6 separate regions of the Homo sapiens genome follow, and regions 2, 3, 4, 5 and 6 are each linked to region 1. The links come from fine-mapping of genetic effects on gene expression. A gene starts in region 1. Each other region holds a variant in brackets. All regions are shown on one strand. Distances are from middle to middle.

Region 1 (5,104 bases):
AATTAACCAATATATGTGGTTGAAAATACCCACCCCTAGCAGAAAGCTTTTTGGTGTTGATAATTTTGGCAGCATATTCTTGTCCAGTAGGAATTTTCATACATCTTCTCACCACTGAGAATGCCCCCCTGGAAACCAATAATTAGCAGGTCATTAATATAACAGATATAATATTTCATTAAAAATTTATAAAATCTGAGCATTTTTATTGATTTTAGTGGATTGCCAGTGAAGTACAGTAATATCCAGTAAATGAACAATTCTTCCTGGAAACCCAGACTTTCTTTAATGTTGAAGAATAAAAGTAAATTTTATTTAACTGGGAGCACACATTATTAATCAACAAAATGAAAGGAACTGCCAATTATGACCGCTCTTGTTTGCACAAGAAATTTGAAAACATTTTACAGTTCACACTCACAGCACCAAATGCTCTGAGAAAAACCCTGCACAGAACAGAGCAGACGAGGAGCAGCAAAAAAATCTGCTGCCTACTTATTTTGGTAGGAAACAAAAAATTAATGTGGTTCCAAGTAAGTAAACATGACGATTATTTTCATTAAAATATAAATCTTGAGCACATTAGTGTGGTTTAACAAATCCTGGTATGGTGATTTCTCTATGCCTTGTTTTGGACTGGGGGAGGGGAGAGATTTGAATTAAGCTGCTCTTCCGACATATTCTCCATGTTTTAACACCAGACAATATATACATATGTAATTTTTATTACTTTTAAAAATATTTACCTTTCCTTTAATTACAGTATAAACCAACAACATACATATAAACGCACTCCTTTCATAAAAGTAACAGTCGAAACTAGTGAAAGAGGAATTGGGTTTGGGTTCCATGCTACAAAAATCAGCATTCACGGCTTGGCCCCTAGGTCCCTTTGCATAAGTCCTCAGTAGGTCTCCTGCCTCCTTCCCTAACATCTCCAAGTAGTTCTGCCAGTCGGGTGAAGGAGGTGGTTTTACACAATGCTAGGCTACGCTTAAGAGCGCTCTCAGTCTCCAGAGGGCTTTTCCGTTGCCTGTATAAATAAATCCTCCCAGAGAACGCAAAGATGCACACGTAAATCCTAGGAAGAATGATGGTGAGCGGTAATCTGGTGCAAAGAACAACACTGGATATAGGGCAAGGGGTTGGGTTCTGTTGGGTGGCCCTTTTCCTGGACAGAACAACTACTGGATGCGAAATAGACTCTATGCCAAGTTGAACTTTCGGCATCAATAAATATGGCACCGTCTGAGGCTGTGAGTTCTCATCAGTACCTGGGTCATACGGCCGACACGCCGGCTAACCAGGAGGCATCTCTATTTACAGAAAACATGATCTATGTTGCATTTTACATGGGTTCTAATTTCCTCTCCAAACACACATTACACACAGGCGCGCGCGCACACTTCTCAGGATGATAGCTACAACTGCAGAGATCGTAAATTCACTAAGTCTCTCAGTGCAGGAGGGTGGGGGACCGGGAGAAGGTGGGCTAGGGACCATCAAAATGAGCCACAGTTGGAGTAAGGGTCCTACCCCTTCTGTGCTCCCTCCCTTTATTAAGACAGCACCTTCCCCAGAGCTGACAAACCAGGGGCCCTCCTCCCATTCCTCTCCCAAACTCCCTCGCCCCAAGACGGAGGCCGGTGGGTCGGGGGCAACGCGACCCGCCCTCAGCTGGAAAGGGGATATGCGGATGCCGGGCAAAGGTGCTTACTTTCCAAGCTCCTCGAAAAGCTGATACTCGTCCGTGAACCTGGTGCAGGTTGTGGTCGAAGCCATCCTCGGTCCGGGCTGTGCCCTGGCTGGGAGCGCGACGGACCAGAAGCGAGCAGACGCGCGGCTAACCCCGGGACTGGCCCCGCGGCGCTGTCACCCAGGGCCGCTCTTACTTTCCTGGTCCGAAAGTAGCTCGCCCGCGAGGGAGTGTGCGCAGGGGCGGGGCGGGAGGGGAGATGACCAGAAAGGGTGGCGTGGGGTCTCCTCCCCACAGTCCGCCGATCCTCCTCCTCCTGCGGGCCTCGCTTCCTTCTTCTCCACTGGACGCTCCACCCGCCCCTTTTCCAGTCCCTGTCCCCAAATGCAGGGGGTAAAGTACTCAAGAAGAGGGGGCCGGGAAATGGAAAAACAGCCAGGCACGGGACGAGTGGCAAGCAGTTGCGAAACGATCCGCACTGGAGCAGGAGGAGTAGAAGCAGAGGGGAGGGAGTCCGAGGGGGCGGAGGTGGAGTGCAGCGGGGCCGAGGCCGCGGAGCCCAGAGCGGACAGCCTGAGCCCAGCGGCCGCTGTCAGCAGGCTCAGGCGCGGGGCGCGCCGGGGCTCCGACGAGCGTGCGCGCCCGAGGCCGGCTTCCCTCCGGCGGGCGGCAGCGGCTCCGGCGAAGCGAGGCACCTTGGCGGCCTCGCGCTGCTCACGAGCCCGCGCGGCTTCAAGACGGCGCGGCGAGAGAAAGAGCGCTCGGCTCAGGCGAAGCCTCTTCTGCCGTCCCCAGGCCTCCGTCTCCTCCTCCGGCGCCTCCTCCCGCCGCTCCCTCCGCCTGCCAGCACCCCCTCCCTGGCGAAGCCCCCTCCTCGCTGGTCCCACACCTCCCTCTAGCGACTCCAAGCCTGTCCCTTCGTGGATCTCTCGCACTCCCTCCTTTGGTTGCACACACGAGCACACCAGTCTAGGGAGAAACCAGGTGGGTGGAGGAGGATGTGCGGGGGAGAAGACTGGAGGTTTGGGTGAATGAGGCGAGAAGTCACAGTTACCCATTTAAACCCGCACAGAGAAGGCTGCCTCAATCTGGGGCTGACTGAGCGGGAAGATGCAGGGCAACTCGAGGATGGCCCGGGGCAGCCGCCCTGGGTCGCGGAAGCCCACGCCCCTGTTTTGGGCGCCGGGCAGCAGGGACTTCTCCAGGCCGGTTCCCGGGCCACGACACCCGGTGGGCCGAGCAAGGGAGAGCAACCACTTCATCTCCACGCCGCTCAGAGTTGACACAGCAGGGGCCGGATGTGGGCTGTTCACTGCTCTCAGAGAAGGGTCCCAACCCTTCCCACAGCCACCAGCGACTGTCGGGGCAAAACCCAGCCTCAGCAGGGTTCACTGCGTCGCCAGCTCCCCAGAACCGGGCGCAGGTTTTCTCCCTCCCCCGCAGCCCCTTCTGCAAGGGGCAATGACGGCCCCTGAGCCACATTACACTTGCCACCTCCAGGCCCACCTCCCCCGCTGTTTTCCAGGATGGTGGCTGAGACTCTGGCAATCCCCAAAGGCCTTTGCTTTGGCTGTGAACGTTAAAAGAATGAAAGCAAAAACTCCGCCGCACAACCACACCTTCCCTTCCCTTCTGAGTAACTCCCCTGCAACCTCAGTAAGTTCTGATAGTAAGGCGAATTCTCGCGATATTTCCCACTCTGGCGGTCAGGGGGAGGTAGTAGGAAGGCTGGGTGTCGGTCACGCGACCCGGCGGGGGCTGACGTCATTCACATCACGTGAACACGTCTAGACTGTTTCGCTTTGCAAAGGGAAAAAAGAAAAGGGGCCGTCGTGTGTGCTTTTGCTTTCAGCCAGATAGTGGCAATTGAGTGCACTCCGTAAATGGCTATCTGGAAAAACCATTTAGCAGTTCAAGAATGTGTCCTTCCCTTTAGCATATCTGCCATTGTTTTCAGTAGGAGGAAAAAAAAAGTATGCATTACGATTTAAAATAGATAAACTGCTGCCGATTGCTAGAACAACTTCTGGGCCCTCTTTCCAGTTCTCCTTAATGAAACTATGCAATTGCAAATTTAGCCGCAGACCAAAAACAGCGTTATGGACGGTCTTTTTCAAATTACTGCCAATTGTTCTACAGCACGGGACTATAAAAACCTTGCAATCCTATTGCTAATTTGCTCGTGGTATTACTTCATAGACAAAATTTCACAGCTGAAAGATAAAAGATAATTTGCAGACACAAGAGAATCTAAGATTTAAAGGCGCTGCTGCTTGCTCCCAAAGACTGCTATTAATTAATGTTACTTTGTGGTCATAGATAATCCTAATTCCTTTTTTCCTGATCTGGGGAACGCTTCTGCCAATGAGTGAGCTTTTTACTGAAGTACTAAAAATGTTCACAAATTTTAACGTTTATTACAACAAAATTGAAGTTCGTATGTGTTTTGATTCCCAGCCGTAAAAGGCAAGAAATAACTGTGTAAAATGTAGTGCTATAGAAAAAGATGATACCAAGAACTGCATAAAAGAAACATGGTCTCTAAATATTAATAATTGGGCTATAAATTGAAAAAAAAAACACAATTTGGTCTTGGCTAAAGATTTGTAATATCTGAACTATTTAGCAATGTGGCTCCAAGGTGATAATGAAATAATTTAATATTTTTCCCTGAATCTAAGAATGAAACAGAAAAAGTAAAATTAAAACAATAAAGGTAATATAAAAATTTACATCTGGGAAGAAAATTGTTTCTTAAATATTCAAGTAATGAAGTCTACATAATTACAGTATTTATCTCAGTTATTTAAACTACCAATAATTGTAAATGGTTATAATTGTGGAGTACAATAAAGGAAACATAACTGAGTTTTAATACTGATGTATTATTAGACAATAAATGTGTACATTTTTTACAGCAAACACTGCTTAATCTGTACGTACCCTTTCTTTGATTTATATTTTAGACTAAATATTTCTCTTATTTGAACAAATATTTACAGTTATTTCTGAAGTTTGAACCTCCTTAAAAAGTAGTCAGATTAGCCGGGCGCAGTGGCTCACGCCTGTAATCTCAGCACTTTGGGAGGCCGAGGCGGGTGGATCATCTGAGGTCAGGGGTTCGAAACCATCCTGGCCAACATGGCAAAACCCCGTCTCTAATAAAAATACAAGATTAGTCGGGCATGGTGGCATATGCTTGTAATCCCAGCCACTTTGGAGGGTGAGGCAGGAGAATCGCTTGAACCTGGGAGAAGGAGGGAGGTTGCAGTGACCCGAATTCGCGCCACTGCACTCCAGCCTGGGCAACAAGAGCAAAACTCTGTCTGAAAAAAAAAAAATAGTCAGATCAAAGACTTTGTTGTTGTTGTTCTACTTCAACATCATTTCAGGAATAGCTACAAAATA
Region 2 (5,104 bases), 340 kb before region 1:
CTTGTATTTGCTTTGTGGAGATCAGTTGGCTGTAAGTATTTGGGTTTATTTCTGGGTTTTCTAATCTGTTCCATTGGTCTATGTGCCTATTTTTATACTAGTACCATACTGTTTTGGTGACTATGGCCTTATAGTATAGTTTGAAATCAGGTAATGTGATGCCTCCAGATTTATTCTTTTTGCTTAGTTTTGTTTTTGCTATGTGTGCTCTTTTTTGGTTCCATATAAATTTTAGGATTGTTTTTTCTAATTCTGCGAAGAATGATGGTGGTATTTTGGTGGGAATTGCATTGAATTTGTAGATTGCTTTTGGCAGTATGGTCATTTTCACAATATTAATTTTACCAATCCATGAGCATGGGCTGTGTTTTCATTTGTTGGTATTGTCTATGATTTCTTTCAGCACAGTTCTGTAGTTTTTCTTGTAGAGGTCTTTCACTTCCTTGGTTAGGTACATTCCTAAGTATTTTATTTTTTTTGCAGCTATTGTGTAAGGGGTTGAGTTCTTGATTTGTTTCTCAGCTTTGTTGCTGTTGGTGTGTAGAAGAGTTACTGATTTGTGTACATTAATTTTGTATCCCAAAATTTTGCTGAATTCTTTATCAGTTCTAGGAGTTTTCTGAAGGAGTATTTAGGGTTTTCTAGGTAAACAGTCATATCACTGGCAAACAGTCACAGTTTGACTTCCTTTTTACCAATTCGGATGCCCTTTATTTCTTTCTCTCGTCCTATTGCTCTGACTAGAACTTCCAATACTATATTGAAGAGAAGTGGTAAGAGTGGGCATCCTTGTCTTGTTCCAGTTCTCAAAGGGAATGCTTTCAACTTTTCCTCATTCAGTATTATGTTGGCTGTGGGTGTTTCATAGATGGCTTTTATTACATTGAGGTATGTCCCCTGTATGCTGATTTTGATGAGAATTTTAATCATAAAGGGATGCTGGATTTTGTCAAATGCTTTTTCTGCATTTATTGAGATGATCATGTGATTTTTGTTTTTAATTCTGTTTACATGGTGTATCACATTTATTGACTTGCATATGTTAAGCCATCCTTGCATCCCTGGTATGAAACCCACTTGATCATGGTGGATTATTTTTATGATATGTTGTTGGATTCAGTTAGCTAGTATTTTGTTAAGGATTTTTGCATCTTTTGCATCTATGTTCATAAAGGATATTGGTCTGTGGTTTTGTTGTTGTTGTTGTACCTAGGTGATGTTCTTTTTGCGTTGAATTTCCCAGATGTTCTTTGAGCTTCTTGTATTTGGATGTCTAGGTCTCTAGCAACGCGGGGGAAACTTTCCTCGATTATTCCCCCAAATATGTTTTCCAAACTTACAGATTTTTCTTCTTTCTCAGGAATGCTGATTATTCTGAGGTTTGGCCATGTAACATAATCCCAGACTTCTTGTAGGGTTTGCTCATATTTTCTTATTCTTTTTTCCATGTAATTGTTGGATTGGGTTAATTTGAAAACCTGGTCTTTGAGCTCCAAAGTTCTTCCTACTGTTTGTTCGATTCCATTGCTGAGACTTTCCAGGGCATTTTGCATTTCTATAAGCATGTCCATTGTTTCCTGAAGTTTTGATTGTTTTTTATTTATGCTATCTATTTCATTGAAAATTTCTCCCTCGTTTCTTGTATCATTTTTTTGACTTCCTTAAATTGGGCTTCGCCTTCTGCTGGTGCCTCCCTGATTAGCTTAATAACTAACCTCCTGAATTCTTTTCCAAGTATAGCAGGGATTTCTTCTTGGTTTGGATCCATTGCTCGTGAACTAGTGTGATTTTTTGGGAGTGTTAAAGAGACTTCTGTCATATTACCAGAGTTGGTTTTTTGGTTTATTCTCATTTGGGTAGGCTCTGTCAGAGGGAAGGTCTAGGGCTCAAGTCCTGTTGTTCAGATTCTTTTGTCCCATGGGATGTTCCCTTGATGTAGTACTCTCCCCCTTTTCCTAGGGATGTGACTTCCTGAGAGCCGAGCTATAGTGACTGTTATTTCTCTTCTGGATCCAGCCACCCAGCAGTTCAGCAGGCTCCAGGCTGGTACTGGGGTTTGTCTGTACAGAGTTCT[G/A]TGTTGTGAACTGTCTATGGGTCTCTAAACTGCGGATACCAGCACAATATTTAGGGTGTATTCTGGGTCCTGCAGGAGCAATCTGCTTCCTTCAGAGAGTCTATGGGTTCTCTTGGCTTTCCTGATTTGTTTCTGCAGTTGTTCTGGAGCAAAAGTTCACGATGTGAACCTCCACATGGTGCTCTGTCCATCCAAGCGGGAGCGCAATCTACTTCTGCCTCCCATCCGCCATGATCTCTCTCACATTTGCTTTATTGTATGGTTTGAAGGTGGCATTTAAGATAATCAAGTAATGTCTACTGAACCTGAAAAAAAATAAATGCCTGTCTGCCCTCTCTCTTTCTATTTCTTCCCTCCTCCTTCTTCTTTTTCTCCCCCTCTCCTTCCTTCCTCTCTCTCTCTCTCTCTTATCATTAGGTGATAAAGCAGGGTCTGTTTCAGACTCAATTAAAAATCATGAAAAAGATTTTTAAGATCTCAGGCTGGACAGCTGATAGAGCAAGGAAAAATAGGAAGGCTTCAATGCTGTAAGTAGAAGTGAACTGCATTTACTGAGGCCTCTGTTTAGAAAGGCTTTTTGAATGTAGTTGCAGGATATAAGAATCTTATAATTTGATGGGCAGTGGCTTCATATCTGAACTGTGTCAATATTTATAAACTGTACTGCCACACCATTGAGTGTTTTTTCTGATAAAGGCTTTTAACTGTCAAATATTACCTTGATTTGTCACTTGGCTTCAATTTTTAGTAGCTATGCTATGAAATGTGGATTTCAGGTATACCATCTCACTAATTATGGCATTCACTGATAACTTCATACATAAACATATAACTAGAACAGGGATCTGTATCTTTATCAGTGATAAAGATTATCTATTTCAGCCTGGGCAACAAAGTAAGACTGTATCTCTACAAAAAAAATTAATCAGCTAGGTGTGGTGGCATGTGCCTGGAGTTCCAGCTACTTGGGAGGCTGAGGTGGGAGGATTGCTTGAGCTCAGGAGGTCAAGACTGCAGTGAGCTATGTTTGTACCACTGCACTCCAGCCTGAAAGACAGAGTGAGAACCTGTCTCAAAAAAAGAAAAAAAGATTATCAATTGATATAAAAAACTCTCATAGCCCCTCTCTGACAATAACTTTTTAGAAAACCTTTTTACTTTGGAAAGAATTTTATATATGAAAACTACAATGTCTGGGGTGAAAATATACGGGATGGGATTAAAAACACATTAGACACTACAGAAAAAACAATAAGTGAACTTATTGAAACTATACAAAATAAAGCCCGGAGAAAAAACTGAAAAAGTATTGAGCAGTACATCAGTGTGTTGTGAGCGATTTAAACGGCCTAATAAACATGTAATTAGAATCCCTATACAAGGTATAAATAGGAGAAAGTTTAAAAATATTTGAAGAAATTATTGCCAAAAATTTTTCAAATTTGTTGAGAAATATAACCCACAAATTCAGTGACTCATGAACTCCAAGCACAAGAAACAGAGAAATACATGAACATGCATCATAATCAAGTTATTAAGAACCAAGCCAGGCCTGAGGGCATGTACCTGTAGTCCCAGGTACTCAGGAGTTTGAGGTGGGAAGATTGCTTGTTCCCAGGAGTTCTGGGCTGTAGTGCACTATGCCAATCAAGTGTCCACACTAACTTCAGTATCAGTATGGTGACCTCCCAGGAGCAGGGGACCACCAGGTTGCTAAGGAGGAGTGAACTGGCCCAGGTCAAAAATGGAGATGATCAAATCTGCTGTTCTCATCAGTAATGGAATCACCCCTGTGCATAGCCACTCACTCTAGCCTGAGCAACATAGCAGGACCCTGTCTCAAAAAAAGAAAAAACCAAAAACGAAAACCCAAAACAAAAACAAAAAAATGATAAAGAGAAAACATTAAAAGCATCCAAAGGAGTGGGAAAAATACATTATATATACAGGAATGAAGAAAAAATGACAGCAGATTCAGAAATAATCCATGCCAGAAGACATTCAATCAGCAAAGAACTGAAGAATACTATACTTACCTGGCAGGGGAGATACCATGATCACATAGATGGTTTTCCCATGGCAAGTCTTATCCATTGCACTCTGGATGTGCTGACACCTGTGATTTCACCAAATGTGGGAAACTCAACTGCATAATTTGTGGTAGTGGGGGATTTTGTTTGTGCTTTCCCCTGGAAAAAAAAAAAAGAAGAACAACACTAGAAATGGTAAATAAGAGGGTAAAAATGAAATACACTTTTTCTTATTTTGAGTCTCTTTAAAAAATCATTGGCTGTTTAAAATATGTTGTTTAGTAATAGTATATAATGGAATTCATAGGGATTAGTGAAATAAAATGTATAACAGCAATAGCACAAAGGCTGATGGATGGTGGCTGTGGGGGCAGTGGTGAAAGAAAGTTTACTGTACCTGAAGTGGTATAATATTACTAGGAGGTAGACTATGATAAGCTAAAGATATATACTATAAATCTAAGATATAGATATATATCTAAAGATATATACTAGAGATATATGCTAAATACTATAAAGACATATACTAAAAAGATATATACTATAAATTCTAAAGTAACTGTTAAAGATATATACTATAAGTCCTAAAGTAACTACTTAAAAAACAAATAAAAAGTTATAGTAAATAAACCCACTAAGAAGATATGATGGATTCTTAAAAAATAATAATCCAAAAGAAGTCAAGAAAAGGAAGGGAACAAAAAACAGAAGAAACAACTAGAAAACTAATAGCAAAATTGTTCATTTAAACTCAGTTATGTTGATGATTACATTAAATGTAAATGGCCTAACTACCTCCAACCAAAAGGCAGAGATTGTATAAAAAAGCAACCCAACAATAAGCTGTCTATAAAAAATTTACTTTAAATATAAACATACAAATAGAGTAAAATAATGAAAACACATGATGCTAATAATATTTAAAAGTTAGATTTCTTATATTAATATCAGACAATGTAGATTTCAGAACCAAAAATATTAGGATGGATTTAAAAAGATT
Region 3 (5,104 bases), 100 kb after region 1:
CTGATTTGAAAACAAGAACACAAATGACTAAAATTTTAAAAGGCTATTTAGAAGGATGCATGACTGTTGCAAAGTAAGCATTGCTCTGGATCTCAAGTATGGAATATGAGATCCTTTGTATCTCAGGATAATCTCCTACTCAGGACCCAGAAAAGGGAGTAAGGGGAAAGTGTCTGTGGACCAACGTTATCTCTTAGGATTCATTGCTTTGTTTTTAATATTAAAAAAATACTTTCTCTGTTAGAGAAGTTTTAGGATCATAGCAAAATTGAGCAGACATTACTGAGAGTTCTCATAGCCCCTGCCCCCACACATGCACATTCTCCTCACTATCAACATCCAGCACCAGAGTGGTACATATGTTACAATCGATGAACCTGCATTGACACATCACTTTCACCCGAAGTCCATAGTTTACATTAGTGTTCACTCTTGGTTTTGTACATTCTGTGGATGTGGACAAATGTAGATAATATATATCCATTACTATAGTAGTATACAGAATAGTTTCACTCTCCTAAAAATCCACTATGCTCTAACTATTCATCCCTCTTTTCTTTGTAACCCTGCAACCACTAATCTTCCTACTAACTCTATATTAAACACTTAAAGAAAATCATGCCTTTCATATGGCTTAAAATACATTAATTCCTTCATTACTTTATTGCTACCATCTCTTCATTTTATTCATCATCTTATTTTACCTACTTTCTCTTGTTTAAAAAAATGACTCCAAAAGAAAAGAGAAATTAAATATTAAAAAATAAGAGTGTAATTATAAGATTTCTTTAGATACTCTCTACATTGATGGTTATCCATGTCTTGGTTGTATGGGGGAATTAGGTCATGTTCTTAGGTATTTTTGATTAAAGGGAGCTGTTTAAATTATGGATGTGTAAGAAAGTTATAGTTTCAAATACAAAATATATATTTGCATTACACAGGTTTAAAATGATAATTTCTCAAGTTTGGTATTAATTTTAATTTTTAAAAATATCATTTTCCCTGGAGAGGTAGAAATGGCACCTAGGTCCAAGGGGAAATTACTTTACAGAAGCTATGTAATTTAATTGGATTTGCTTTTAATAATGTGTGACATGAAAAGGTTAATTTTAAATGTTAAGAAGCAGTGAATTCCTTAAAGAATTCACTAAAAGTTAGTTTTACTTTACAAATTACTTTGCTGTGCCATCTTTCTTGCCTGAGGGTCATTTGGTACTGAAGGTTAGGCTGTTGGATATAAAATAAGAATGAGAAGGAATAATGTAACATCAAATAGAACAAAATTTCACATTCAAATGCTCTGACATAAATGAAACCACCATTTTACACAATTTTAGGTACCTTTTATTTTTAATATATCTTCAATTTAGTATATTTTAGTATATTTATTTTAAAATATTTTAAATTTAATGTCCTAAACCTAATGTCCTTTATTTTTAGTATATCTTCAATTTAGCATATTTAGTATGTCTAATTTAGTATATACAGTATATTTTCAATTTAATGTCCCAAACTTACACAAATTAATAATGTAGTTTAAAAGAAAGAAAAATTAGATTTAATGTCCTAAGAACAATTTTTACTTATTTTGTTTCATTATAGTGAATCCTTTTTGATTTAGCTTTCAGGAATCATTATTCCTAAGTGTGATTTTGAAATACTTCTTTCAGTTCATTTAGCTGTAAGTTTTAGACCTGATAAATGGAGAAATGTTTAACATTCCTGCTCAGAATTTGAATATATAGTACAAGTATTCTAATAAAGTAAAAAATAAAATAACCATCTTTTACGTTAGGTAGTTCACTAGTTATTGACCCAGTAATAAGTCATCTCATAAGTCAAATAGTTTCAAGGCCAGAACCTCAGTATAATTTATCAATTCATTTATCTGTCAAGTATTTATTAAATATCTTTTAATTCTTTACAAAAGTACACAATCCTGGCTCTCTTTTCCTAATTTTCAATATAAAGCTTGACTTATGACTAAATAGTAGCAGTGTCAGATAGGACTACACTCTCAGGTTAGGGATCTTTGTACTGTAAGAATTTCGTCCAGAATATTTACAGATTCAACTAAATTTTTGTAACAAAATACATCCTTTCACAACTACCTAAAATAATACAAAATGTGAGCTCTTGACACCTGTGAAGTTTAAAGAAAAAATA[G/A]TTGGTGGTTGCAGAAGGACTCAAATACAAACTGGAAAAGCCAAGACGGAGGGCTGCTCGGAGCTATTATTCGCTAGGTGAGGTTAGCTTGTAGAATGCAAACAGACTTCAATTCTAGTGGTTCTGTAACCAGGGGCAGCTCAGCTAACCTCTCTCAGTTTGTTTCTTTTTATGGGAACAGCAACCATCCCAGAGCATTTCTGTAGGAACTAAAAATAATACATGAAGAAGTTCTCAATGTAAATGGTCTTTATTCATTCATTTTGCACTTGATATTAATAAATATTTATTTACACCTTTAGATTAGGCACCAGGCTCCCATGTGCTAGTGAAGGAGGAAGGCGTGACTTCTCATTTAGAAATTTTACCATAATGGAGGAGAATGTTATATAACTGTTAGTTGCCCACTGCGATGGTTAAACTGTCTACTTGATTGGATTGAAGGACGCAAAGTATTGATCCTGGGTGTGTCTGTGAGGGTGTTGCCAAAAGAGATCGACATTTGAGTCAGTGGGCTGGAGAAGACGGACCCACCCTTAATCTGGCGGACACAATCTAATCAGCTGCTAGTGAATATAAAGCAGGCAGAAAAACTTGAAAAGGCGAGATTGTCCTAGCCTCCCAGCCTACATCTTTCTCCCGTGCTGGATGCTTCCTGCCCTCAAACATTGGATTTCAAGTTCTTTAGTTTTGAGACTTGGACTGGCTCTCCTTCCTCCTCAAGCTTGCAGACGGCCTATTGTGGGATCTTCTGATGATGTAAGTTAATACTTAATAAACTCTATCAGGATATATATATATATATAAAATAGGATATCTATATCTATAAATAAAAATAACTATAATCTATATCTATAAATAAACAGATATGTCTCCTGTTAGTTCTGTCCTTCTAGGGAACCCTGACTAATACATCCAACTTCATGAGTGGCTATTAAAACATCCCAAGAAAAAGAATAGGCAAAATTGTTTAGTATGATTCTATGAAATAGTGACATAGAAGTGGCATTTGTAGGTTTCACCAGATTTCCGTGCTAAGTTCAATCATTGTTGTTTTCATTTAATGTTTATTAACTGGATTTATAATATATTTTCTTTTTTTGTAGTACAGAGTGAAGAAAAGACTGAGATACTGATAATTATTTTGCAAATGCAGAAGTAGCATGATCTATAAGCAGATAGGAATTATATCAAGAGTGAGGAAATGTAATCTTTGATCATTTAAAAAATATTGGTGCAATCATAGATAATTAACTTAGTCTCCTTGTGGCATGAATTCCGCACTTGCTAAATAAACAGCTTGTCCAAGTTCATTTAATGAAAATCGTATCAACAAATATTTATTTTATAATATTCTACGCATTATGGAAAAAAGTAGAAGCCCCGAGTTTTCAGTCAAGCTAAAGAGATAAGAATTCAAACTATGAAATGAGATTTAAAAATGAGACAGAAGAAGATTTCGTAGGACAAGAAACATTTACTTGCCAATGAATGGTACATTCTATATGTGCTATAGGAACTAAAATGAGAAAAAGATTGATCCACATACTAAGAGTAGGGAAGAATTTATAAGAAATGTAGGGGGACTACTAAATCCTGAGAGATATAAACATTTGAATACATGAAAAATGTCAAAGTGAAGAGAATGTCTAAAGATACTTCGGGTCTATAAATCCCTTTAGGAAGTAAAAAAAAATTTCCAGTTCTCAACTAAATGGATAGACAGTACATGTTCCTTAAAAAATAACTAATCTTCTTCTAAAAAGTGCTGCCTAACCTGCCTTTAGGATTATCTCACATGCAACAAACAAAAGGACACAAGGATACCTACAGGCAAACACATACCATGTCATTTCCTGGTCAGATATTTAAGAATGAATGATGCCTTACGTTAGCATTTTATTGTTGTTGTTGGCTGGTCACTAACTATTTACTAAAGTCCTTCCCTTATTTGCAAATGAAATTATAATCTCTTAAAATATCCTTTATACATAGTTAGGAGTGTGGGTATTGATACTGCACCACCTGGGTTTAAATCCTAGTCTCACTACCTACAACAGGTATGACTTTGGATAAGTTACTTAACCTCTCTGTTTCTCAGTTTCTTCTTTAGTAAAAAGGGGATAATAATAGTACCTATTACACAGCGTTGTTGAGAGAATTAATTTATATATATAAAGTATTTAAAAGGGAGCCTGGCACATTGTATTATGAGTATGGGAGCTGCTTATATGATTTGATATGTGCGTGTGTGTGTGTATATATATATATATATATATGTTACATATAATATGTGTGTGTGTATATATATGTTATATATAATATATATGTATGTTATACATAGATGGTTCCTGATTTATGGCAGTTCAACTTATGATTTTTTGACTTCACAATAGGTTTATTGGGGCATTAAATGTATTTTTGATTTACGATATTATTGACTATGATAGGTTTATCAGGAAATAACTCCACTGTGAGTCAAGAAGCATCTGTGTACGTACACATATATAAATATATAAGTAAGTATATATTTAAATATATAAAATAAATATTTAAGTATAAATATATAACAGTTGCTAGCGTCTTTACGTATACAAATATATGTATATAAAGGGTGCTAGTAACTGTTAAATTATAAAATGATAATATGTTTAATCATAATTTTCAGTCATAAAATGATTGCTATTGAAGACAGTACAATGTTTACTAAGTGATAGAGAAGTGGAAATGAGAATCTTTGAGATAATGTTATTAGAAAAAGTTAAAATTGAAAATTGGTCCCAGAACACATTCAGTATTTATCTTATAAGTCATAATATGGTTCGCATTTTTTCTCAAAGCACTAGTGTTTCTGAAAGTCAGTTCTGTAGCCACTGGGATCACCTAATATGCAGATAACCTTATGACGCAGCATTAGCTGATGAACTCTCTGGCT
Region 4 (5,104 bases), 47 kb after region 1:
AGACCCAACTCTGTTCCTGATATAGGGTCTGAGATGGCAGCAATGAAAACCTGCTCTGTTGCAGCTATCTTAAGTCTAGTTAAGCACAGAATAAAGGAGCCAGTCAATTCATTTGCATTTTATTGTCAAATGTCAATATTTCTTTTATGTGTGACATAATTAAGAAGGGAGTGTGTATCTTCTATATGTTTTATTTACTGTGATTATACCTAATGCATTAGAGTAAGTGATCAATCAGATGTATGACACCTATATCCACACTGTCTTAAAAGAATTAAAAGTCCATGTCAACATCAATAACTAGTATTGTGTTAATTAGATGAATGGGAGGTAGTGGACTACAAGTCTGACACTTGGCCTGTAATCTTGACCATTGTCTAACTGTGTCCACAGGGACAGATCAATTGACATCTGTAAATCTAATTTTTCTCAGTATAAAACAAGGGTATTAGGCTCATTTAAAGAAATGTTTTCATCTGCTCTATAAAGCTATGTGACAGCTGATAATAGGTTTTTACTACCAAAAAGGAAAAAAATTACATAGTCTGTCACTGCCTCACAGCTTTCTAGATCACTGTAAGAAAAATAGAAAGAACATTGAAATATTGGACCTGAAGTCAGGAAATAGAAAATGAATCTCAGTTCTATTCTTACTAGCTTTGAGATGATGAGAAAGTCACCACACTTCTTTAAGCTTTAATTTTGTTCTCTTTAAAACTTTTACCTCTAAAAGCACTCACTTCAGAGCAGGATCCCAAAAATTGTTAACTCAATCTCAATACAACATATTTACAAGTGAAAAAATGTATTCTTTTGTATTTCCCCCCCTAGAAGGTTTTTGAGGAAATTTACATCATCCTTACCAGCTTTTCTACTCTTTACTAGCTTAATTTATCATTATGGATAAGAATTAGATTCTACCTCTCTTTGATTTAAGTCTCTAAATCTTCACATTTTCAAATTTGGTGAATATTTCTGGTATCTAACTTTTCCCCTCATGTTATAGCATATTCAGTGAGATGCATCATTTTAGGTTACCCATTTTTCCCCTGTAGCAAACTCAGGACTACTATTGCATGCAATTTGTATAATATAAGCTTTGATACATGCAATGTTCATTTTTTTAAAAAATCTCTAACTAAAAGCATGTTAAAGTAAATTAACTAGCAGAAACTTACTACAAATGTGCTGGAAGCCAGGATTGCAGCAAGGAAGTTGATGGAATTGTTCCTTTGGTTTAGGATATTGGCTGCTCTGCGGACAAATCACAATTTCTGTCTCTCATTTAAATTCTTGTGAGATAATCTGATTGGTGTCACTCAGCCAATAGACTGGATGCCCTTCAGTCAGAGTCCAACACTGGAATAAAAGCTGAGATCTGGGTGGTGGAGTAAGTGACAGAAATAAGGCTGTATGAGATGCCCAGGAATAGTTGGATGGGACGGTACCTAGAAAAAGGGGCCATGAATAGGAGTATATTCTCTGAGGAAGGAGTTCAGCAAGTTATCATGTCTTTATGTGCCCACTGTCATGCAGTGCAACATGAAGTTGAAATGTGTTTATAGTTTACCCAAAGCTAAAAATACAAGGATGCTAAAAATGATAATTGTAGACTATTTGTGATGTCTGGATTGCAAATTTCAACTCTGACTACATATGTTTTAGAGTTTAGATAGCAAATTATTTCTTACTGTAATGATTCTATGTTCTGCCATACATGTGCCATTAATGATTATATCTTCCACATTTATTTCATTTCATCATGTAAGAAATTGGACACATATACATAAATTTCTAAGTTAAAATTTATCTGAGACTTTAAGGTCTTCTGTCTTTTTTCATAGGATTTATTAATTTTGAAGAAAGCATAAAGTACTTCAAATTTAAAAGGACATGGCTAAAAAACTAAATGAACTATATGTATCTGAATTATTTCTTAAACCAAAGGCCAATTTAAAGTGATAGTCTAAGTTGAATATATTACTTGCATTTATAATTTTACCAGTATTCATATATATGTGCATCTAGTATCTGTTTGATTTTGAAATATAGGGAAATAAAATGAAATTGATTTTTTTAAGTGTGTAATAATATGCCACTCCAAAATAAGCCACTTTGGCGTGAGGATTATTTTGAGCTAAAGGCACCTAAAAAACAGCAAGTACAAGAAGGTCACTCTGACCTCCCCTTTTTTTTCCCTAAAAGCAGGAGACAGAACTCCCATATAGAAGATATTCTCATCATTCTAGAAAGAAAATAACATTCTCATTAGCAGAGATGGGGACTCAGAGTTGAGAAAAATCTGTACAAACAAACCTTGTTAAACTAACCCTTATCTTCCTAGTTCCCTTTTCACCATTAACTACCCTAGCCCAAGTCCTTCATCTTGTCACATTTTCGTAATTTACTACTCAGTGTCCAATTCAATATAGAAGCATTCAACTCTAACTCCTTCTTTGGGTCTTTATTTCCACATGATGGCTTCCATGTCATGTAAAACTAAAATTTATACTCAGTAAATGTGTATACTTTTCTCCTGTTATCTATCTTATGTCAATTAATTCTCAGGCCCAGCTGAAAACCCTAAAAAGGTAGAGATAAAATTTTTGCCTTCACTAAACTGTTTTTCTAAGGATGGTTGTGTAAAAAAATTTTTTTAAAATTATATGTGTGTATGTATATATATATATGTATCTCCACAGTTTATCACCAAAATGTTGGCTTCCATTATCCAATTTAGACGTGACCTAAATAACTCCAATCAAAAGAGCAAAAAAAAAAAAA[C/CAA]AAAAAAAAAAAACAAAAAAACCCCTTCTCAAAGAAAAAAAAAAACTAAAAAAAAACTTTTCTCATAGCTACCAGCTAACAATGATGGCAACATTTTGCCTCCTGTGTTGCCCTTTAAAAGGGCAATAGAAAAAGGCGTTAGAGTGAAGGAAGAAAGCTTGCTGCTGAAAGACAGGAATGCTGCTTACTGTAAGCCTGGACAGCCCTAGTTTTCTCCATTCCGGGTCATGCTCTGAAGTGGGGCTGATGGCGAAATGTCACATCACCAGAGTACCCGCCTAGGGGAAGTACACCATGCTCATCACCCCATCAGAAACTTGGCCATTCCCCAAACTAGCATAATCTTAGTGAGGCATTTCCTGGGCACAAAAGTGTCTCATCTGCCACACCAAATTTGCAGATGCAATTTTTCCCCGTGTTTCCCTTGAAAAGAGAGTAGTAGTTATGAAAGCCACCAAGAAGCATAACATTCCAGGGAATATATATTTTTTCACTCAAGTGCTTTGAAAAAAGGTCTTAAGGTGGGTGAATTTAGGAAAAACTATTATATGTCAGAATAAATTATTACATGAATCAGAACTCAGAGCATAGTGTCCGAATTACTACTGTTAGGTATAATTGTTACAGATTCCAAGTTTAAAAATACATTCTAATTTATTCCTTTAAAAAATTTTTTTTACATAATTCTTTGTGACTCTTTTTTGAGAAAAAAGAAAAGATCTTTTCTGCCTTTAGAGTAATACATAACAGAAAACCTTTTGATAGTTTTGAGAAATGGTAAGCATAATATCCAAATTACAGCAGTTCTCATTATAATGGCACTGAATAATCACCTCATTAGTAGTGATTATCTTGATATTAACAGCAGTTCCCGACCTACAGATTTTTTTTGGCAAATGTTTAGTATGATTTGCAACAATGTGCAAACATTTTTTACTATATATTTTTTTACTTCTCAGTATTGAAGGAATTAGTTGGATGAAGATTTATGAGATATTGGATAATGTGAAATGTATTGACTGTCAGGAATCTTGTTTCAAGGAACTGCACTCCTTAGGAGTATGTGTGTGTGAGTGTGTGTGTGTGTATGCGTGTTTGTGTGTGTGTGTGTGTGTATCTTTCTTCATCATTTATTTTCTTGCATTATTATATTCTGAATCAAATTGCATTCTGGAAATGAATACTAGCATTAGGAGAAGCATTGCATTTTGATGGTGAATGATTTTGCAGAAATTATACACGGTTGATGGTAACTCTGTCAGTATTGTTGAAGTGTTTTCCTATATTTAAAATTTTAAGTTAGCAAATATTGAGAGTCAGAAATTCCTTATCCTCCCATTTTCCACTGTGTGTTTGTTTAAAACCCTCACTTCAATAATCCAAATTTCCCTTTGTTCATTGCCATGAAAGGAATAACTTGATGAACAAAATGAGCCAACATTTTGTCGACTAAAGACATTTTTCCCTTTTTGTGTGCCATCATTTTTCTTAATTTAAATAACAAAGCCATTTAACTGGATACTTTTTAAAATTGAGAGATAAAAAGCACTATTTATTAGCTTTAAAAAGTATTGCTTAATTCTTTATCCTCGTCTAACAAAAGATGGCTCTTTTGCCTTGGTCAATATTTTAACACACTTCTTTATTATGTTATTATTTGTGATCTGAATTAAGTAAGAAATTTGCAAGAAGAAAAAACCTCAGAGGTTAAAATATTTGATTGTTGCGTTTTGAACACATTTTAAACATGCTAGTTGTTAGAAGCAAAAATCAAGAATCAAACCTTTATTCTTTGAAAACTACTTAAAATAAAATGTTTTTATGAGTCAAATTAGTACTTTGGAAAGGACTCTGGAATGCTTACATCATACATAAACCACAGAGTCATCGCCACATTGGTTGAAATGAATACTTATTGTGTGGAAAGTGTTTTGGAACAAATGTGTTAGAAAAATGCATTTCAGGGAGATAGCTGGCAAAGCAACTTAGTGTTATATAATCAGGACTTCTCCTTAAATGCTTTTTTATTCTACCTATTCTATTATATAAAATCTAAAAATGTCTCTTTGAAGAACCAATTCATTATATTTCCTTTTATACTTCTTTTGGATATAAGATGACAAGAATATCAAAGTTCTTGAAAATAGGGAACATCTCAAACATAGCTCTTTAGGTGGTTTCACTAAAGATTAGGTAACATTCTGCCAACTTCAGAAACCCATCTGATTTAGAAAATCATCCCATGGCAGAGTAGTCTGTATTCATGATGACAGAATTCTCTGAGCTTCCCTTTCACACCTTCTGCTTCCTAGTTTCTTGT
Region 5 (5,104 bases), 61 kb after region 1:
TAGAAGCTGTGTTGCATTCAGCAGCCTTGTTCTTTGAGATAACTTATAATCCTGTAATATAGTCCTCATATTTCTAATATGTTCTGAGCTATTTTGTGGTTTTCAGTAAAGTAAATTTAATGTATATTCTAGACCTAACTAGGGCAGGACAGGCTCAGGAAAAATTAGCTCTAGGGCTTAAGCATGACAAGATTTGAGAGTTAGGTGAATAATTTGTAATCCTAGAAGATAAAACAAGCAAGCAAACAAAAAAAAAAACCCACACACCTCTTCACGTGGTTATTAGAAATTTGGAGCATTGGGTGCGGGGAAACACCATTTAAAAAAATGGAAAAAGCACTCCATTGATGATGATTATGGTAGTGATGCTATAGATGATGAGAAGATGCCATGTACTAAGAACTAAATATTTGCCAGATAGGGAATAAATATAGTGTACTTCACTGAAGCATCTGTCAGTCTCTAAATTATCCCCTTCACAAACTCACAAACGCAGTAACAAGATGGACAGATTCCAGTGAGCCATGTTTAAACATGACCTCTCCCCTACATCCACATCTGATGGGAGTATTTATTTATTAAACAGATATTTATTGAGTACCTATCATATATGGAGTGGTGAACCAAACAGATAACATTTCTGCTTTTTTGGGGCTTTTGGCAAAGATAGGACGGTAAAGATAGAATGAGCTAAGGTACTATGCTTGATGCTTCCAGGTAGATTCACCCTAACCCTCCAAAGTAAGTAGTGGTATTCTTATTTTACAGAGAAGAAAGCTAAGCTCTCTTTCCCTAACCAGGGAAATTAAGTTGCTAATAACTAGAAAGTGAATAAAGGGCAAAGGCAGCTGTATCCTAACTCTGAGCCTTTCTGAAGTCTGTGATTATCCTAGTTGCACCATTTATGTCCCATAAGCAGGACACAGAAACATTTAGCTGTGATCTATGGGCTGGAAAGTGACAACTACTGCTGCTGCTAGGATAGGAAGCTTGGCGCTGGACACCTCAATGTACAGCTGGACTGGCAAAGCACTAAACATGTCCATCACCATGTTTGCTAGGAACGGCAAACTATGAAACCTAGAGATGGTCTCCTCCTCACTTCTGTCTTCCAAATTTTGCATAAGTACACCTTATTGTCAGCACCTAGTTTGCACTTAGAACACCAACTGCAAAGGAGTCTGGGGAAATGTAGCTTTCAGGTTTCCAGCCTCCGAATGAATGATAGCACACCAGGAGGAGGGGAGAAATTCTTAGCAACCCAGTGCTTAGTATTTGGCATCCCATTACATTAAGATGCCTTGAATATTTGCTTAGAAATGTGATATTTCATACTGGCAGGTTTGGACATGCAGGGGTTTGTCTGGTGTTGTTTGGGATTTTTCTAGGTTTTGAGTCACTCCACATGTTTTTGCCACACAATTAATTACTTGTACCATTTCAAATTAAAGGAGACTTTATAAAGAGATACCTATGTGCAGACTCAAGAGCGGACTGAAATACCTGGGAGTCAGAAGCCTAAAGTTTGTGTGTATATTTTTTTCCCTGCAGGTTCCCAATAACTGTGTGTCACCTTCAACAAGATCTCTAGCCTCTTTGGGTTTTTCAGCGTTTTCTCCACTGTAACAAGAATAATGGCTCTCGCCACTTCTCTGCCTCTAAGGGTGTTGTCAGAATTAATGAGACATCAGGGTGAAAAGCTTTCTACATTTTTTTCCCCTCAGAGAATGCTGGAAAAAAAAATAGAAGTAATATCTGTATTTTGTGAAGAACTTTTCTTTCTGCATGTCTTCATAACATTTAGAAAAGAGTTTACAGATTTTTTTTTTTTTGAGCAATGGCAATTACCATAGGTGTTACATATAATAAGGGAACTTTATCTGTCAAGAGAAACAAAGGAGAAACTAAAAACTTGAGTCAGAGAAAGTATGCTCCTGGCTTACTCTTTAATGGAATGAGTAGGAGGGCTGAGAAAATCACAAGTAAAATATTACTGTACAGAGAGCATCTGAAAGTAGGAGGAGAAACTACTTAATTAAAGTTGCCACCCTCAAAGTAGAAAAAGAAAAGTGATACTGACTGCTGACAAGTTGCTGAAATGCCTTAGATATACTGGAGAGAGAAGATGAAAGTTGGAGGTCAAAATCTTTGTGCTTTAGGGTTAAACTGCTCAGATCAATGATAATAATATCACTGATCATTATGTTCCATTGGAAGTTAAACTCTAACGAGTTAAAAATGTTCTCA[A/G]CCATTTAATTAATTATTCAATGAATTGTTTGTTAACATAGGCAACAAGTACTATATCAATTCTCTCACTTCAGTGGAATGCAATACTCTGGATTCTGATGGGTGTTAATGCTGTCAAACATGCACATCTTAATAAGATTTATTCTTGGCCATCTGTAGATAATGACTTTCTAAATAAAGCTGTTCTTGGAGACAGAAAATATTCAACTCTGATATTTATAGTACTGTCCATATTTATAATCAAGTTGCTTTTTTGTTTAGAATCCTTTGTTTTAGGATGTTAAGCATTTTGGAAAATATTGTGGGGGCACATATAATTATTATTTCTTTAGGGTAAAGTACAGCTAAGCAAGGATAGGCCAAATGTCAAAGAGTGGTCCAGAAGTCAGACTGAGAGTTCAATTTCCTCACCCACTGACCGCACTCACTGAATGCCTCTGAAAAACCATGACTAATCACTTCTTCTTTTCAAGTATCTTATGAGGATATCTTTCTTAAAAGTATTTTATTCAGTTTCAAAAGATTTTTTATTACCTAATGCCTTTTCTCTAACTCAAAACAAATAGTACTTTTCAGTAATCGTTGCCCTTTTCACATCAATCCTTCTCCACATTGGTTGAACAATACTCTTTGGGAAAAAATAAACTGGATAGTACAACATATAGTAAGTTGAATATATAATATCTTCTTCTAATAGGTCTTCACATTTTTGCATCAAACTTGTTGTCTTAAATTCAACATCTTCTTTTGAGTAATAATACTTATGAATAACTTATGGAAAACATTGTTAAAGGTGAAAGTATCATAGAAACAAGAACTCCAGGGCATTTAAATATATCGCGAATGAGGCTTTATAAAGACTATGAATGCTAATTTGTATATCAAATATAAACAGGGTTACTAGTGAAAACAAGGTCCAAATAGGGTAATTCAAAATAGCATATTCATATCTTTTTAAACATCCCTCAGAAAACTATATTTGAAGCAATCAGGATAATCTACATATTTCTTACAAAAATACATTTGTTTTACAAAGAGCAAGATGAGCAATTAAAGTAAAACTATTAAGGATGTTGTAAGTGTCTGGGGCTAAGATTTCAGAATTAGAGTTTGGGATTAAGAAGCAATTTCTTGCATACTAAAGTTGTAAAGGTGTCAATATGAATGTGTGGCTTCCTTGAATAGTGCTCATGTATGCAGAGATCGGTGTTGATAATGCAACTATTATCATTTTTGTGATTTGGTTTGGAAAGGACAGGAAAGGATAATTGTATAAGAGAAGCAATGGTACAAATCAAATGAAAATTCAGATGATCAGCCAGGTCCAAGATGCATGGAGAATGAAGACAGAAACTTGTGAAAGTTTTTGTTTGTTTGTTTGTTTATTTTTAAAAGAGGGATTGATATCTGAGGAAGACCAAGTTACTGGAAGTCTTCAACTTGGAAGTCAAAGAATAAATAGGAAATATGTTTATAGAGAATGTTAGCTAAAATTTTCAGACATTTTAGTTTGCAGGGCATGACAAGATGGAGGGTAAAGCTGTAAGAGTGGGTAGTTGTGAAAGAAATGCAAAGGGAAATTATTGCATTAGTGATCTATTGCTGTGTTACAAATCACAAATTCAGTGGCTTAAGACGATATTAATTATCTCACAGTTTCTGTGAGTCATGAGTCCAGTTACTGCCTAGCTGGATTCTCTTCTTAGGGTCTTACAGTGCTGCAATTAATGTGTTGGCTGGAGTGTGTTCTCATTTGAGATTTGACTGTTGAGGAATCTATTTCCAAGCTCACTCGGATTACTGGAAGAATTTCCTTGCAGTTGTAGGATTGAGGGCTCTGGCCTCTTGTTGGTTGTGAGCTGAAACTGCCTTGAGCTCCTACAGTCAATTCTCATCATTTAGAAGCTATTCGCAGTTCCCAGAGGTCACCTGAAGTTCTTTGCCATATGAGCTTTCCCAACATGGTTTCTTACTTCATCAAACCAGCAAGGAGACATATGCTAGGGTGCCATCCCATCATCTTTGCCATAATCTGTTGGTTAGAAGTAAGTTACAGGCTCGCCCTGTGATTAAAGTTGGGGCGGGGGGTGGATTACACAAAGATGTGAATGCCAGAAAATGGGGATCATGAGTTCACCTTAGAAGCTGTACACCTCAACTGATAAGAGAAAAACTCTCAATATAGTATGACTCTGAAGTTTTCCAACTTAATAGAATGAACCAGTTTCATTCTATTTAGTAATGCAGGGCATTTAGTAAATGCAGGGCAATCACTAAAAAATAACAGAGTACAAAAGTTGACATAGCTGTCTAGTCTGAATCTAAGAAGAGCAGATTTTTATATTTGACTGGTGGAATAAGGCAGGAAACAGCATTTGCCACAGAAAACGAGAACTTAAACCAGGGCTCATGAAACTTGAAAGAATCAGCAGCCTCCACTGCAGAGGCTTCAGGGAAACTGTGGTTAGAACTAAAGAGCAGAGAGATTATTTTGTGAATAGGTTGATATGTGACACATGTTTTTTACCATGGCATGAGTTAGAAAAGCCAGTGGGAAAATGAGATGAAGGACAGCAGAGGGGAATGTAACTTGTAAATGTAAAAGTAGCTTGTGTTACATTTCCATCCATTTCCAGTTCATAAGCATTTTCCTCTATCCTTTCTGTTACTTGTTATATATGTGTCTCTTAAAAATAGCAGGCCTGATGTTTCTGAATCTTATGGCCCTTTAATTATTTGAAGACAAGTTTCACATCTTCTCTCTTTCAGAAAAGGTGTTGTGAGAAAGAGGCTTACTTTTAGTCCAGCATTAAAGGATTTTATATTTTTTATAAAGGATAAATTATTTTAAAAGTCT
Region 6 (5,104 bases), 310 kb before region 1:
TTATGACATGTTAATTTGGCATGCCTAGTAGATGTATAATGTAGATTTCCAATAGGCAGCTGAATATATATGTTTGGAGTTTAGGGGAGTGATCTAAGCTGGAGAGATATGTTTAAGAATCATTAATATAATTTGAAGCCATTGAGATTAGATGCAATTACCCTGGGAGAGAATGAAGATGAGTTCCAAATTTAAAAGTCAAGCTGGGCATGGTGGCATGTGCTATAGTCCCAGCTACTCAGGAAGCTGAGGTAGAAAGGTCACTGGAGCCCAGTTCAAGGCTAGCCTAAGCAACACAGCAAGACCTTGTCTCAAAAACAGACAGAAAAAAAAATAATGAAAACAAAAAGTCTTCCAAATGTAAAAGTCAGGTTGATGAAAAAGGACCAGTCAGAGACTGGGAAGGAGCATCTATAAAGCTGGGAGGAAAATCAGGCAAATGTATTGTTTGAATGACAAAAGAAGAATGTTTAAAGATTGAGACAATGAACAACTCTGTCAAATGCTGCTGAGAGATGAAGTAAAAATGAGGACAGAAAATGGATCCTTGATTTAACAACATGGTAGTCATTGGTGACTTAGAGAACTGTTCTGTGGAGTGGTAAAGGTAACTGGAGTGGGTTTAAGAGAGAATGGGAGGAGAGAAATTTCAGACAGCAGTTTAGGCAAGGCTCTCAAGGAATCTGGCTATAAAGAAATGGGGCACTGGTGGATACAACTAGTATGGAGGAAATTATTTATAATGACAAGGCAAGGTGAAGAGAGTTGCTAGAGCAATACTTGTGAGCAGAGGTGGTGGCCTTTGTTAGGTGCATGACCTATTTACAAACAGTAATAAAAGAGATAGCAGGGTGCATACACAGAGATGCAGAGATTACTTCATTTCTTGCAGTGAAATAAGCAGCAAGGTCCTCACCTGAGTGAGAATAGGGGAAGAAATATTGGAGGTGGGAAAAGTAAATGAAGTCTGAAATAGTTGACAGAAGACTGGAAGAGAGAATGGATTAGGGACATATGATTTTTGGGCAGCCTCTGGGGCTTACCTGAGGCAGGTCAATGGCCATGAATATATAACAAGACCTGTCAGCATAGGTGCACGTTTTTCCAGCTACATTCAGCCTTAGGATTATGAGCATGGCCCAAGCAGATAAGAGGATGTATCCATGGTTGTGAGTTTCCAAGAGTGTGAGAAAGTCCAAGGAGCAAGTGAGTTAGGTTCTACTAGCCTTGTAAAGAGCTAACTTAGATTAAGCCCAGACTACATTATGTGCTAGCAATTGAGTTAGGCCATAGTGCAAACCATTATATCCCAAAGCAGTTTCTAAACATCTGGTTATAGATAGAAAGTTACTATAATTTGTATAAGTATTTCACAATTTGTCCTGGTCCTGCCTAGAGACTCAGCAATAAAAATTACCCAACAGTTCTTGGCCATTGAAGACTTTGAAACTAGGACAAAATAAACTCATTTTACTGTAAAATAGCTGCAGATCTTCCTTTAAGAAATTAAATAGTACCATAGAAACACTTTGTGCTTTTTTTTTTTTTTTGTAGACCTTGATTTTCTTCTTAAAACAAAGTAAAAATAATGACAAGCATTTTAGTAGCAGGGGCCCAGCAGAAGACAGCTGCCTAAGTAGCATGGTTTTAGGGATGCTGAGAACAATCCCTCTACAAACCAATGCCCATACCTGTTCACTGGGGCCTGAGGTGCCAACAGAGGTGCCCTTTGGCTTTAAGAAAGGGGTCAAAGCTGGCTGGGCGCAATGGCTCACGCCTGTAATCCCAGCACTTGGGAGGTCAAGCAGGTGGATCACTTGAGCTCAGGAGTTCGAGACCAGCCTGGCCATGTCTCTAATAAAAATACAAAAATTAGCTGGGTGTGGTGGCATGCACCTGTAATCCCAGCTACTCAGGAGGCTGAGGCATGAGGCTTGAACCCGGGATGAGGCTGCACTGAGCCAAGTTCGTGCCACTGCACTCCAGCCTGGTGACAGAGTGAGACTGTCAAAAAAAAAAAAAAAAAAAAAAGAAAAGAAAAAAAGAAAGAGATCAAAGTCTTCAGTGTCCACAGGAGCCAGCAGCAAACTCATGGGGCAGATGTGAAGTATGTGTGTGCCTGGTGGGGATAGGGGAGTGCCTGCTCCCTTCTGAAACAGGCAGCAGCTTCTCTGACTGCTGCTGTAGTGAACACAGAACCAGTGGGGCAGACCTTACACTTTTTCAA[ATTAAT/A]TAAGCCAGAAATCTTGACTTTTACATGACATATCCAATTTTTAAATGTTGGTGACATTTAAAAAAACATAAAAACACTTTTTACGGACAAACAAGAATTTTTTTTTTCTGTTGTAAAGCAGCAAAAGCCTAAATGCAAATCCTTCTGGAGTACAATTACTGCTTAATCTGTTATCAACTTTTCCTACTCCAGTCTGCAGGAGAACATTCTAGCTCTCTTCTGAGAATTGGTTTTGTCTGAGAGAAAAGCAGGAATGCTGTAAATGCTTCCTGCTGCTTTCTCAGGTTAGGGTGGTTTATGACAGCTGTTGTTCAGTTCATGGACACATGGTCTAGTACGCTGATCTTCATTGTAATCTTTTTGTACATTCTCACCTTTAAAAAATCTGATAAAAAGACCACAGAGCCATGAAAGGTTCATAGAAGTCAGTAGAATTTTATTCAATGAAATCACTCGAAAGCTGTGTCATCTATGTTTACCCTTAAATTATAATTTTTTACATAAAAATTCAAAATTTGGGTGAAGATTAATATTCCTTGAAAATTTCCTTAGAATATACTGATTTGCTACTACATTTCATTTTTCCTACATTCAGCTAGATGACCACTTCATTTGGTGTCTCTCAGCCTTCTGCTGAGACATTTGAGTCCGAGTATATCCTCAGCATTAACAGTAAACCTACATAAAGAGGGCAGCCCAACAGCAAAACAAGAGTTGTATACCCTCGTGAGCAAAGAATAATAACAATAGGAATATTAATGTCAGTGATCAGAATAGTTATACTGCTACCATTTAATTTCTATCAAATATCATTCTAGTCACTCTGTACCCATTAATCCTCACAATATCTTTATTAAGTTGGTATGTTTATTCTCATTTTACAAATATGGAAACTGAGGGTCAGAGGGAAGAGGTAACTTGCTCAGAGCATCAAGACAGTGGTGAGAGAACCCATCATTAAAACAAGGACTATCTGGGTACCCCTTGAGGCTTCTGTTATCAAAAGGGCTTGGCCTCAATTCAACAACTATTTATCAATGATATCTCCATTCCTGGCCTTGGTTTGGGTTTAGGAATGCAATGATGAATACACAGTTCTTGCCCATGGAGACATTATACTGCAGTAGAGGAGACACAAATAGAAATATATTTTCAAAACAATGTGGTTGACAGGAGAGGTAAATACAATCTATTATGTAGGTTTTGAGAGGGAAGGCAAGCCCAGAATAGGGCCTAGGAAGGTTTGCTGTGGAGCATGATGCTGTACACTGAATCTTAGGAAAAAGTAAGAAGTCGGGAAAAGAAGTAGGGGAAGAGACTATTTATTCTAGGTAAGAAACATAAACAACATGAACAGCATAAACAGGCATGTGAGCAAGTGTGATGTTTTTAGCAAATCAAAAGAAGCTGAGCATCCATGTATGCTCAAGTTCAAGCTGGGGAGTAGCAGGAGCTGGGGTGCTTGCCTGTATCCCAGAAATGATAACATCAAAGTGTTACAAGGACAGGTTCGTATTAAAAAAAAAAAAAAAAAGCAGCCATGTGAAGGCTGGATTGGAGGGTACAGTTTAGAGAAGCTTTTAGGAGTCTTAGTTGTTAACTATATTGTTCTCAGCAACATTTTCCCAGAAGAGACCATTGTTTTGCTCACAGAGAACAATTAACTTGCCATTCTCACCAAGTGCAAATTGTTATGTACTAAATGAGACCAGAGTAGGACACACTGCCCTTGACACTGGCCAGCACTATGCAGGCATACATACAGTACCTCTTCTGAAGAAATAAAGATGGACGCACTGTCAGCAGAAATCACAAATTTATTAACTCTTAAATATATCAATCAGTCCTTTACCATTATGGCAAGAAATATATACAGTGTCCCATGGTAAACTGCAGTGTTTCAAAATGATAGAAGATAATAAATGTGTAATTCATTTGTGGTGGAGAGAACAAATCACAATTTCCTCACATCTTAGTGCGGAAGACAAACTTGATCTACAGTAATACTTCAACACCACATGCTAAGTTAAAAGTGTAAAAAAAACACTCTACATCTATTTTTTTTTCTTTAAATACATGTATGCCACGTATAGCTGCTTCACAAAAGGGTAAAAGAAATTAAAAAGAGAAAAATGAGGCCATTATTTTTTCACAGATCTCATTGGCAGGTTAACATGGCTCAATATATTTACTGTATATATTTATTTTAAATATATATGTTGTTTTAAATTGTGTAATAATTATCAGAAAAGCTTCAACCCATCTACCATACATCCACTAGCAATAATATCTAAGATGATTAGTAATCAACACAGAGAGGTGAGATGAGAGAAAAGAGGAAGGGTTGTTTTTGTTATTTTGTTTTTCTTTTTTGCTTCTGCTTTAAAAATAGGCTTCTGAGGACTGTGAATTACTATCGTTAAAATAACAATGATGGAGATTCCATGCACTGTAAAGCACTTCAGGGAAGAGAACAAAAATCACAGGAATTGAATCAACAAAGGAAAAATGAGAAGCACAAAGAAAACCTAGGACATTTCCCTTTTTGTTTTAAACTGGGAAATTCTAACTCCTTGGAGGAAGACAATGATACTCTGATTCAAGAGAGAAGCTAAAAAAGCACAAGTCACAAAGATCAAGTTCAAAACACTTATGAGAATGGCAAACATTTGTAAGCCTCTCTAACACTAGAAAACTAGCTAGTGATGATGCAGAAGTGACCCTTTCATTCCCCAAGGCGGAGGTGAGTGCGTTTGCATAAAACCCCCTCTGCTATCAAGTTGGTATCCTCCTGGCAACTGTCCCAATCAGTAAGACGTTGCAGTCACAGGAGGAACTTGCTTTTATCCTAACTTTAAACAATGCAAATAC

Which allele goes with the higher level. Alleles are on the strand shown, and positions count from the first base shown. SD is a standard deviation of normalised expression in the study named. Not every link is listed here.
For the expression in fibroblasts of the gene that starts at base 2,452 in region 1, G is the high allele of the variant in region 2 and A is the other (small effect, 0.11 SD a copy in GTEx).

The links. PIP is the estimated chance that this variant, and not a neighbour inherited with it, causes the effect.
Region 2: its variant is the best candidate, but not a certain one, in a credible set for the expression of CAMK2D in fibroblasts (GTEx, PIP 0.89).
Region 3: its variant is the best candidate, but not a certain one, in a credible set for the expression of CAMK2D in whole blood (INTERVAL, PIP 0.58).
Region 4: its variant is the best candidate, but not a certain one, in a credible set for the expression of CAMK2D in whole blood (INTERVAL, PIP 0.70).
Region 5: its variant is the best candidate, but not a certain one, in a credible set for the expression of CAMK2D in whole blood (INTERVAL, PIP 0.76).
Region 6: its variant is the best candidate, but not a certain one, in a credible set for the expression of CAMK2D in whole blood (INTERVAL, PIP 0.84).

What each region holds. Positions count from the first base shown.
Region 1 is chr4:113,759,287-113,764,390 of GRCh38, forward strand. It overlaps CAMK2D (calcium/calmodulin dependent protein kinase II delta), which reads right to left and starts at 2,452. Exons shown (of 21, transcript NM_001321571.2): 1 at 1,718-2,452; 2 at 34-128. The coding sequence starts at 1,782. RefSeq lists a silencer at 2,239-2,648 and enhancers at 2,642-3,180, 3,181-3,719.
Region 2 is chr4:113,416,221-113,421,324 of GRCh38, forward strand. LOC105377374 (a long non-coding RNA gene) reads right to left here. Exons shown (of 5, transcript NR_199847.1): 2 at 4,111-4,263. It also overlaps the pseudogene RN7SL184P and the pseudogene RNU1-138P. Among named protein-coding and RNA genes, the nearest start is that of MIR8082, 270 kb to the left of the region's middle. The variant G/A (reference allele first, on the strand shown) is at 2,075.
Region 3 is chr4:113,860,030-113,865,133 of GRCh38, forward strand. No RefSeq gene overlaps it. Among named protein-coding and RNA genes, the nearest start is that of CAMK2D, 100 kb to the left of the region's middle. The variant G/A (reference allele first, on the strand shown) is at 2,170.
Region 4 is chr4:113,806,428-113,811,531 of GRCh38, forward strand. No RefSeq gene overlaps it. Among named protein-coding and RNA genes, the nearest start is that of CAMK2D, 47 kb to the left of the region's middle. The variant C/CAA (reference allele first, on the strand shown) is at 2,785.
Region 5 is chr4:113,820,746-113,825,849 of GRCh38, forward strand. No RefSeq gene overlaps it. Among named protein-coding and RNA genes, the nearest start is that of CAMK2D, 62 kb to the left of the region's middle. The variant A/G (reference allele first, on the strand shown) is at 2,248.
Region 6 is chr4:113,448,384-113,453,487 of GRCh38, forward strand. It overlaps CAMK2D (calcium/calmodulin dependent protein kinase II delta), which reads right to left. Exons shown (of 21, transcript NM_001321571.2): 21 at 2,649-5,104. Among named protein-coding and RNA genes, the nearest start is that of MIR8082, 300 kb to the left of the region's middle. RefSeq lists an enhancer at 3,906-4,453. The variant ATTAAT/A (reference allele first, on the strand shown) is at 2,228.